Linked DNA regions of Homo sapiens. The protein of the gene in region 1 purifies or fractionates together with the protein of each later gene. This does not show direct contact. Each region holds a gene or a part of one and is shown in the gene's direction. Other genes may lie near its edges. The genes, in order: KCTD19 and ECT2L.

Region 1 (3,821 bases):
TCATCCTCCAGTAATGTAATGTCTCTGCAGGTAAGATCCCAAGAGAGTTCTGCATGCGCTCCATGGAATGGACAGTACCTCATCTTTTTTTTTTTTTGTAGATCTATTGAGATATAATTCACATACCATACAATTCACACATTTTAATGTGTACAATTCAGTGAGTTTTAGTATGTTCAGAGTTGTGCAACTATCATCACAATCAATTTTAGAACATTTTCACCATCCCCAAAAGAAATCCCATACTCATTAGTAGTCACACCCCATCTCCCCATAGCCTCTCCAGCCCTAGGCAACCACTAATCTATTTTCTATCTCTAGAAATTTGCCTTGTCCACACATTGCATGTGGATGGAATCATATGTGATTTTTTGTTTGGCTTCTTTCCCTTGGCATAATGTTTCGAATTTCATCCATGTTGTTATCATGTATCAGTACTTCATTCCTTTTTATTTTTTATTTTTTTAGAGACGTGCCTCACTCTGACGCCCAGGCTGGAGTGCAATGGCACGATCACAGCTCACTGCAGCCTCAAACTCCTGGGCTCAAGTGAATCTCCTGCCTCAGCCTTCCAAAGTGCTGGGATTACAAGCACAAGCCACCATGTTCATCCCATTCCTTCGTATTGACAAACAATATTCCATTGTGTGGATATACTACATTTTGTTTACTCATCTGTCAGTTGATGGACATTAGGTTTATTCCAACCTTTTGGCTATTATGTTCTATGAACATTAGTCTAGAAATTTTGGTGTGGACATATGTCTTTATTTGTCTTAAGTGTACACCTAGGAGTGGAATTGCTGGCTCATAGTAGAATAACTCCATGCTTTACATTTTCAGGACCCACCAAACTGTTTTCCAAAGTGCCTGCACCATTTTACACCTCCACCAGCAGTGCATGGGGGTTCTGGTTTCTTTGTCGACACTTGTTATTACCTATTGTTTTCATTGTAGCCATACTAATGGGTGTGAAGTAGTATTCTGTTGTGGGTTTTGATTTGCATTTCTCTGATGACTAAGGATGTTGAGCATCTTTTTTCGTTCTGTTGGTCATTTGTATATATTCTTTGGAGAGATGTCTATTTAGATGCTTTGCCAATTTTTAAATTTGGTTGTCTTTTTGTTATTGAGTTTAAGAGTTCTTTATATATTCTAAAAACAAGTTCTTTATCAGACAAATGATTTGCAAATATTTTGTTCCATTCTGTGAGTTATCTTTTCACCTTCTTGATGGTGCCCTCTAAAGCACAAATGTTTTTAAATTTTGATTAAGTTCCATTTATCTATTTTTTTGGTCACTTTTGCTTTTAGTGTCACATCTAAGAAAGTTTTGCCTACTCCAAAGTCATGAAGATTTTCTATTTTCTTCTAAAGATTTTATGGTTTTAGGCTGGGTGCAGTGGCTCACGCCTGTAATCCCAGCACTTTGGGAGGCCAAAGCAGGTGGATCACGAGGTCAGGAGATCGAGACCATGCTGGCTAACACAGTAAAACCCCATCTCTACTAAAAATACAAAAAATTAGCCGGGCGTGGTGGCGGGTGCCTGTAGTCCCAGCTACTCAGGAGGCTGAGGCAGGAGAATGGAGTGAACCCGGGAGGTGGAGTTTGCAGTGAGCCGAGATTGTTACCACTACACTCCAGGCTGGGTGATACAGCGAGACTCCGTCTCAAAAAAAAAAAAAAAAAGATTTTATAGTTTTAGGTCTGTTTCACTTGCAGCTAATTTTTGTGTATGGGTTGAGGTAGGGGTCCAACTTTATTATTATTGTTATTATTATCTTTTATGCATATGGATGGGCAGTTGTCCCAGCACCATTTTTAATAAGGACTATTCTTTGTCCATTGAATCATCTTGGATTGCTTATCAAAATTCAATTGATCATAAGTGTAGGGGTTTTATTCTGTACTCTCAATTCTATTCCACTTATCTTTATATTTATCCTTATGCTGGTAGCACACTGTCTTGATCTAGCTTTGAAATAAGTTTTAAAAGTGTGGGATGTGAGGGTGATCTGGCTGTGACATCTGTCACTCCATTGATTGCCAGGGTTGATTTGGCTGATCTGGCTGTCTAGGCGGGTGTCCCCTTCTTCCCTCAACGCTCCACGTGCGTCCCTCCTGAAGCTGCGTGCTCAGTCAAAGAGGACGACCATCCCCAATAAAGGAGGACCAGTCTTCAGTCAAGGGTATACAAGTATCTGCTCTTCCTAGCTAGAACCTCCAAACAAGTTCTTAAGATCCGTTGTAGGAGAACGTAGGGTAGTCAAGCTTCCAAGACTTCAGACACATCCTAATGAGGCGCTGCATGTGGCAGTCTGCCTTTAAAAAAAAAAAGTGGGAAATGTGACTTCTTAAACGTTCTCCTTTTTTCAAGACTGTTTTAGCTATTCTGGATCCCTTGTATTTTCATATGAATTTTAGCATCAGTTTTTCAATTTTTGCAAAAAGTCAGGATTTTCACAGAGATTGTGTTGAATTTGTAAATCAATTGGGAGACTATTGCCATCTTAACGATATTAAATCTTCCAATCCATGAGCATGAGATATTTTTTCATTTATTTAGGTCTTTTAAATTTTCAACAATGTTTTGAAGTTTCCAGTGCACATGTATTTCATTCTTTTGTTAAATTTATTCCTAAGTATGTTATTTTTGATGCTATTGTAAATGGAATTGAATTGTTTTCTTAATTTCACTTTCAGATTGTTCATTGCTGAAGTATAAAAATACAACATTTTTAAATATTGCTCTGCATCTTTCAACCTTGTTGGGCTCATTTTTTTGTTTGTTTTTCTTTTTTGAGACAGGATCTTGCTCTGTTAGGCCAGAGTACAGTGGCACAATCATAGCTCACTGCAACCTCAAACTCCTGGTCTCAAGCCACCTTCCCACCTCAGGCTCCCAAAGTGCTTGGATTACAGGTGTGAACCACCATGCCTGGCCTGGACTTATTTCTAATAGTTTTCTGGTGAATTCCTTAGGATTTTTTATATACAAGATCATGTCATCAGCAAACAGAGATAGTTTATTTCTACCTTTTCAATCTGGATGCCTTTTTATTTCTTTTTCTTGCGTAGATCTCTTTTTCATTCCCCCTTTAGGAGGAGTCTGGCATGGCTCATGAATCAGCAGAGGACTTGTTTCATTTCAACGTAGGGGGCTGGCATTTCTCAGTTCCCAGAAGCAAACTCTCTCAGTTTCCAGACTCCCTGCTGTGGAAAGAGGCTTCAGCCTTGACCTCTTCAGAAAGCCAGAGGCTATTTATCGACAGAGATGGTTCCACATTTAGGCACGTGCACTATTACCTCTACACCTCCAAACTCTCCTTCTCCAGTTGTGCAGAACTGAACTTGCTGTATGAGCAAGCATTGGGTTTGCAGCTGATGCCTTTGCTGCAGGTAAGATGCTCTTGTTTTCTGGGAGTGGTGGATCAGTAACATGGCTTTACATCACTAAATATTGTTTCCTGTTATATATTGGTTGCTGAGATGACCCTCTTAATGGGCAAATGTAATAAGTGTGTTAAAGTAATAAATAATTTCCTCATTAGTATAGGGGTGAGTAAAAAGGAAAAAAAAGTAATAAACAATACACTGAAATTACCTGCTTTTGTTTTTTCGAGACAGGGTGTCTGCTGCAATCACAGCTCACTGCAACCTCCACCTCCCAAGCCCAAAGGATCTTCCCACCTCCCACCTCAGTCCCTCTGAGTAGCTGGGAACACAGGTGCATGCCACCATGCCCGGCCAATCCTTTCCATGTTGACCAGATTGGTCTTGAACTCCTGGGCTCAAGTCGTCCTCTCTAATTGGCCTCCCT
Region 2 (3,821 bases), on another chromosome or scaffold:
CAGTCTGGATTTTCTTTGGACCTATCTTTCAGTTTACTAATTGTTTCTTTAGCTAGATTCTAATCTGATCTTAAACCCATCCATTGAGTTCTAAATTTCAGTTACTGTATATTTTCAGTTCTAGAATATTGATTTAATTCTTTTGCCAAAATTTTCTACCTAGTCATTTATTTTAGATATATTAATTATAGAGTATTTATTTCCGCAAAGTTCATGTCTGATGATTACAATATTTGGATCACCTGAGGATCTCTCTATAGTTATTAAAAACCAAAAAGAAAAAAGAATTCTTGTCTATTGTGTGTTCTAGTTAATTTTCATTGAGTACCAGATACTGAGTATACAAAATTAATGTGATCCTTTGAGTCTCTGGGTGATGTTTTCTTCCTCCAGAGAGAATTTACTTTTGCTTCTGGCACGTCTAGTGCTAGGAACAAATCCTACAAATCCAGTCAAGGAATGAGATGTTTCAAAGCTGGCTTCAGTCTTTGTGAGAGTTTGTCTAATTAAGTATTATCCTTCCTGAAAAGAATCTTAACTGAAAGCTGGTGTGATTACCAAGCCTCTCCCGTCTTAGTGGGCCCTAAATTTCCATTTGTGTCCTTTCTTCCCTGTGAGAATGCCTAAGATTCTTTTTTAGCATCTAAGTCTTTTAGTCATAACTTTCTGTTCTGCTTCTCAGCCTAACAAGCTTTGCTTTGGAACTGACAAATGCCTTGAAGTAAAAAGTGATGCCAAATATCAGGCTTACCTCTCTGGGTTTCCCTTCTTTCTGGGGTCTTGGTTGAACAAGTCCTTATTGCATTGATAGCTCTATAATATAGCCTTCAAATAATTGTTTGTATAATATTTGGTCTAGGTATTTCATCAGTTCAAACCACATGAAATTTTCTCTTGTCGTATGTCAAAATGGCTGAATATTGGCAATATCGTACGCTTCAGTCAAAATTATTCTCAATGAGAGGGTTAATCTGAAAGAAACTATTCCACTATTGCTAGAAGCTGAATTCTCAGAATCTAGGGTTAACGTAACCAAATGCTATTGGAACATTGGATAAGTGTCACAAAGATGTCTAATACATACATTCACATATAACATATATATTCATCAAATAATATTTTTCCTGTGGAACAAGATACGCTTCTTATTTCCAAGTCAAGTTCAGATAGTAAGTCAGTAATAGCATTTAAAAACGTTATATCTGGCCAGGTGCAGTGGCTTACACCTGTAATCCCAGCACTTTGGGAGGCTGAAGCGGGAGGATCACCTGAAGTCAGGAGTTCCAGACCGGCCTGGCCAACAGGGCAAAACCCCGCCTCTAGTAAAAATACACAAAAACTAGGTGGGCATGGTGGCATGCGCCTGTAATCCCAGCTACTCAGGAGGCTGAGGCAAGAGAATTGCTTGAACCCAGAAGGCAGAGGTTGTAGTGAGCTGAGATCGCGCCACTGCACTCCAGCCTGGGCGACAGAGCAGGACTCCATCTCAAAAAAAAAACATAGAAATAAAAATAAAAGTCCGGGTGCGGTGGTTCACACCTGTAATCCCAGCACTTTGGGAGGCCAAGGTGGGCGGATCACGAGGTCAGGAGATGGAGACCATCCTGGCTAACACGGTGAAACCTCGTCTCTACTAAAAAAACAAAAAAATTAGCCAGGCGTGGTGGCGGGTGCCTGTAGTCCCAGCTACTCTGGAGGCTGAGGCAGGAGAATGGCATGAACCCGGGAGGCGGAGCTTGCAATGAGCCGAGCTCGTGCCACTGCACTCCAGCCTGGGCGACAGAGTGAGACTCTGTCTCAAAATAAGTAAAATAAAATATAAAAAAAATTAAAACTTTCAATTTTATATAAACATTGTAGAAACAAATGGATTTGCATACAAATTCTCAGAGATTTTTGTACCAGAAATCTCAGTGTAATGAAAAAGTATCTGTGTACCTGAAAATATTATTGCTAGAAAACTGTCTGAAAACAATTTGTGACTCATCTTCCTCTTGTTTCTGAAGGATTGCTTATGGATGCCCAAATGCGTTAAGTTCGGATGGTTTCTGCCCTATACTCCAACAGATAATGAGTATGGTGCTTGGAAGCGCCATTACATTGCTTGTGTGTCCCACTTAGACTGGCTGACACCTAGGGAGGCTGCTGCTACTTATGGGACGCTGAATGAACCCAAAACAGAAGATGAGGAACTACTGGAGAGACAAAGAGAAAAGTGCCTGAGGAAAAGAATTTGGGAGAAAATTGCACTACGTAAGAGTAAGTAGCATTTTAAACCTTTATATCTTAGGTAAATATTGTAGACACAAATGGATTCACATACAAATTCCCACAGAGGACAGCCCTGTCTTTCGGAATACTCTGAGTGGCAGTCTTAAGTATTTTCCAGATGAGCTTTTTTCCGTACTGTATATTTCAAGTTAATTGATGAGAAAAACAAAGATTTCAGACAAAATACATAAGGTTAAATATCAGTGCTTCCATTGCTATTCTGGCTCCTCTCAGGCTTATAAGACCAAAAACAAAGAGGATAAAGATGTTTGAACATGGGGAAAAAAGCAAACAAATAGGTTCAAAACAGAGGAATTGGGAGTGATGAAAAGAGGAGGAGAAATGCAAGTGAAAATGGAAGCAGGGAAAATGGCATTTAAAAAGGGAGAAAGAGGACAGCTCTTTCCGCTCTTTTTAAAGCCTCTTTCAGTTAAGCCCCCTATTTATTTATTTATTTATTTTATTTTTGAGACAGGGTCTCACTGTCACCCAGGCTGTGCAGTAGTATGATCTCTGGCTCACTGCAGCCTCGATTTCTGAGGCTCAAGTGATCCTCCCACCTCAGCCTCCTGAGTAGCTGGGGCCACAGGTGCACACCACCATGCCTTGCTAATTTTTTGTATTTTTGTAGAGATGGGGTTTCTCCATGTTGGCCAGGCTGGTCCCGAATTCCTGGGCTCAAGTGACCCGCCCACCCTGGCCTCCCAAGGTGCTGGGATTACAGGCAGAGCCACGGCGCCCAGCCTCAGCTAGGCCTTATGCTTTATGCAGTGTGTAAAAGAAAACAGCAAAACTGATTAGAGTTCTCCCATGTTTTCTTCCCACTAACCCTCTGGTGAGATCGTGACAAATAAGAAATTGCTTGAAGGCAAGAAGAAGGGCACAAATGAATGTGACACCTATCAATTGATTAACTGGTCCCCACTAGAAAAGGGTTGCTTGTTTGCTTGTTCTCTGAGCTTTGTTTCTTGACCTGAAATGACCGGTAGCTCACAGCCACAGTGCCAAGAGGATGAGAAATCCAAACCGAGTGCATGAAAATGGCTGTAATTATTGTCATTTGGAACCTTGCCCTGGTACAGCTTTATTTTTGATGCCTTTATCTGTGTGGACTTGGCTGGGAGAAGTATGAAGTAATCAGCCCCGCCTGCTGTTCTTTGTTTTTCAGAGGAGTTATTCAAAGTTCGACCCCCTTGGGTGAGTGGAACTTGCTGCTCTAGCGTGCTAAAGCCCAGATGCCAACCACGCCTCTCCCAGACTGTAAGGGAGCGAGTGGGATTACATGAAGCTTTGGAGAAACAGCTTGTTTTGACATCGTTAGAAACCTTGCCCAAGCGGTAAGCAAAATTCCATCTACTGAAGGCTCAACACCATCCCAATACCAATAATTCACTCTAGAATAAATTTAGCTATCACGCAGAAATCTTGTGTAATTCTGTGGCTCATATCCTATGAAATATCAGTAAAGATAATTAATTTTCTAGAACAGTAGTCAAACATGCCTTCTGAAGAGGTAAACATATAACATACAAAACTTACATTTTAAATGT

Evidence for each region.
Region 2: the proteins of KCTD19 (region 1) and ECT2L purify together in Homo sapiens (affinity purification with mass spectrometry; one large-scale study listed by BioGRID and IntAct). This does not show direct contact.

Annotation. Positions count from the first base shown.
Region 1 is NC_000016.10:67,320,168-67,323,988, reverse strand, and holds part of KCTD19 (BTB/POZ domain-containing protein KCTD19), read left to right. Parts: intron 1-2,001; exon of another isoform or gene 2,002-2,327; intron 2,328-3,103; coding exon 3,104-3,400; intron 3,401-3,821. UniProt on the Homo sapiens protein: Transcription regulator which is essential for male fertility and for the completion of meiotic prophase in spermatocytes. Regulates progression of the pachytene stage of meiotic prophase and promotes the transcriptional activation activity ZNF541.
Region 2 is NC_000006.12:138,840,973-138,844,793, forward strand, and holds part of ECT2L (epithelial cell-transforming sequence 2 oncogene-like), read left to right. Parts: intron 1-2,006; coding exon 2,007-2,259; intron 2,260-3,439; coding exon 3,440-3,608; intron 3,609-3,821.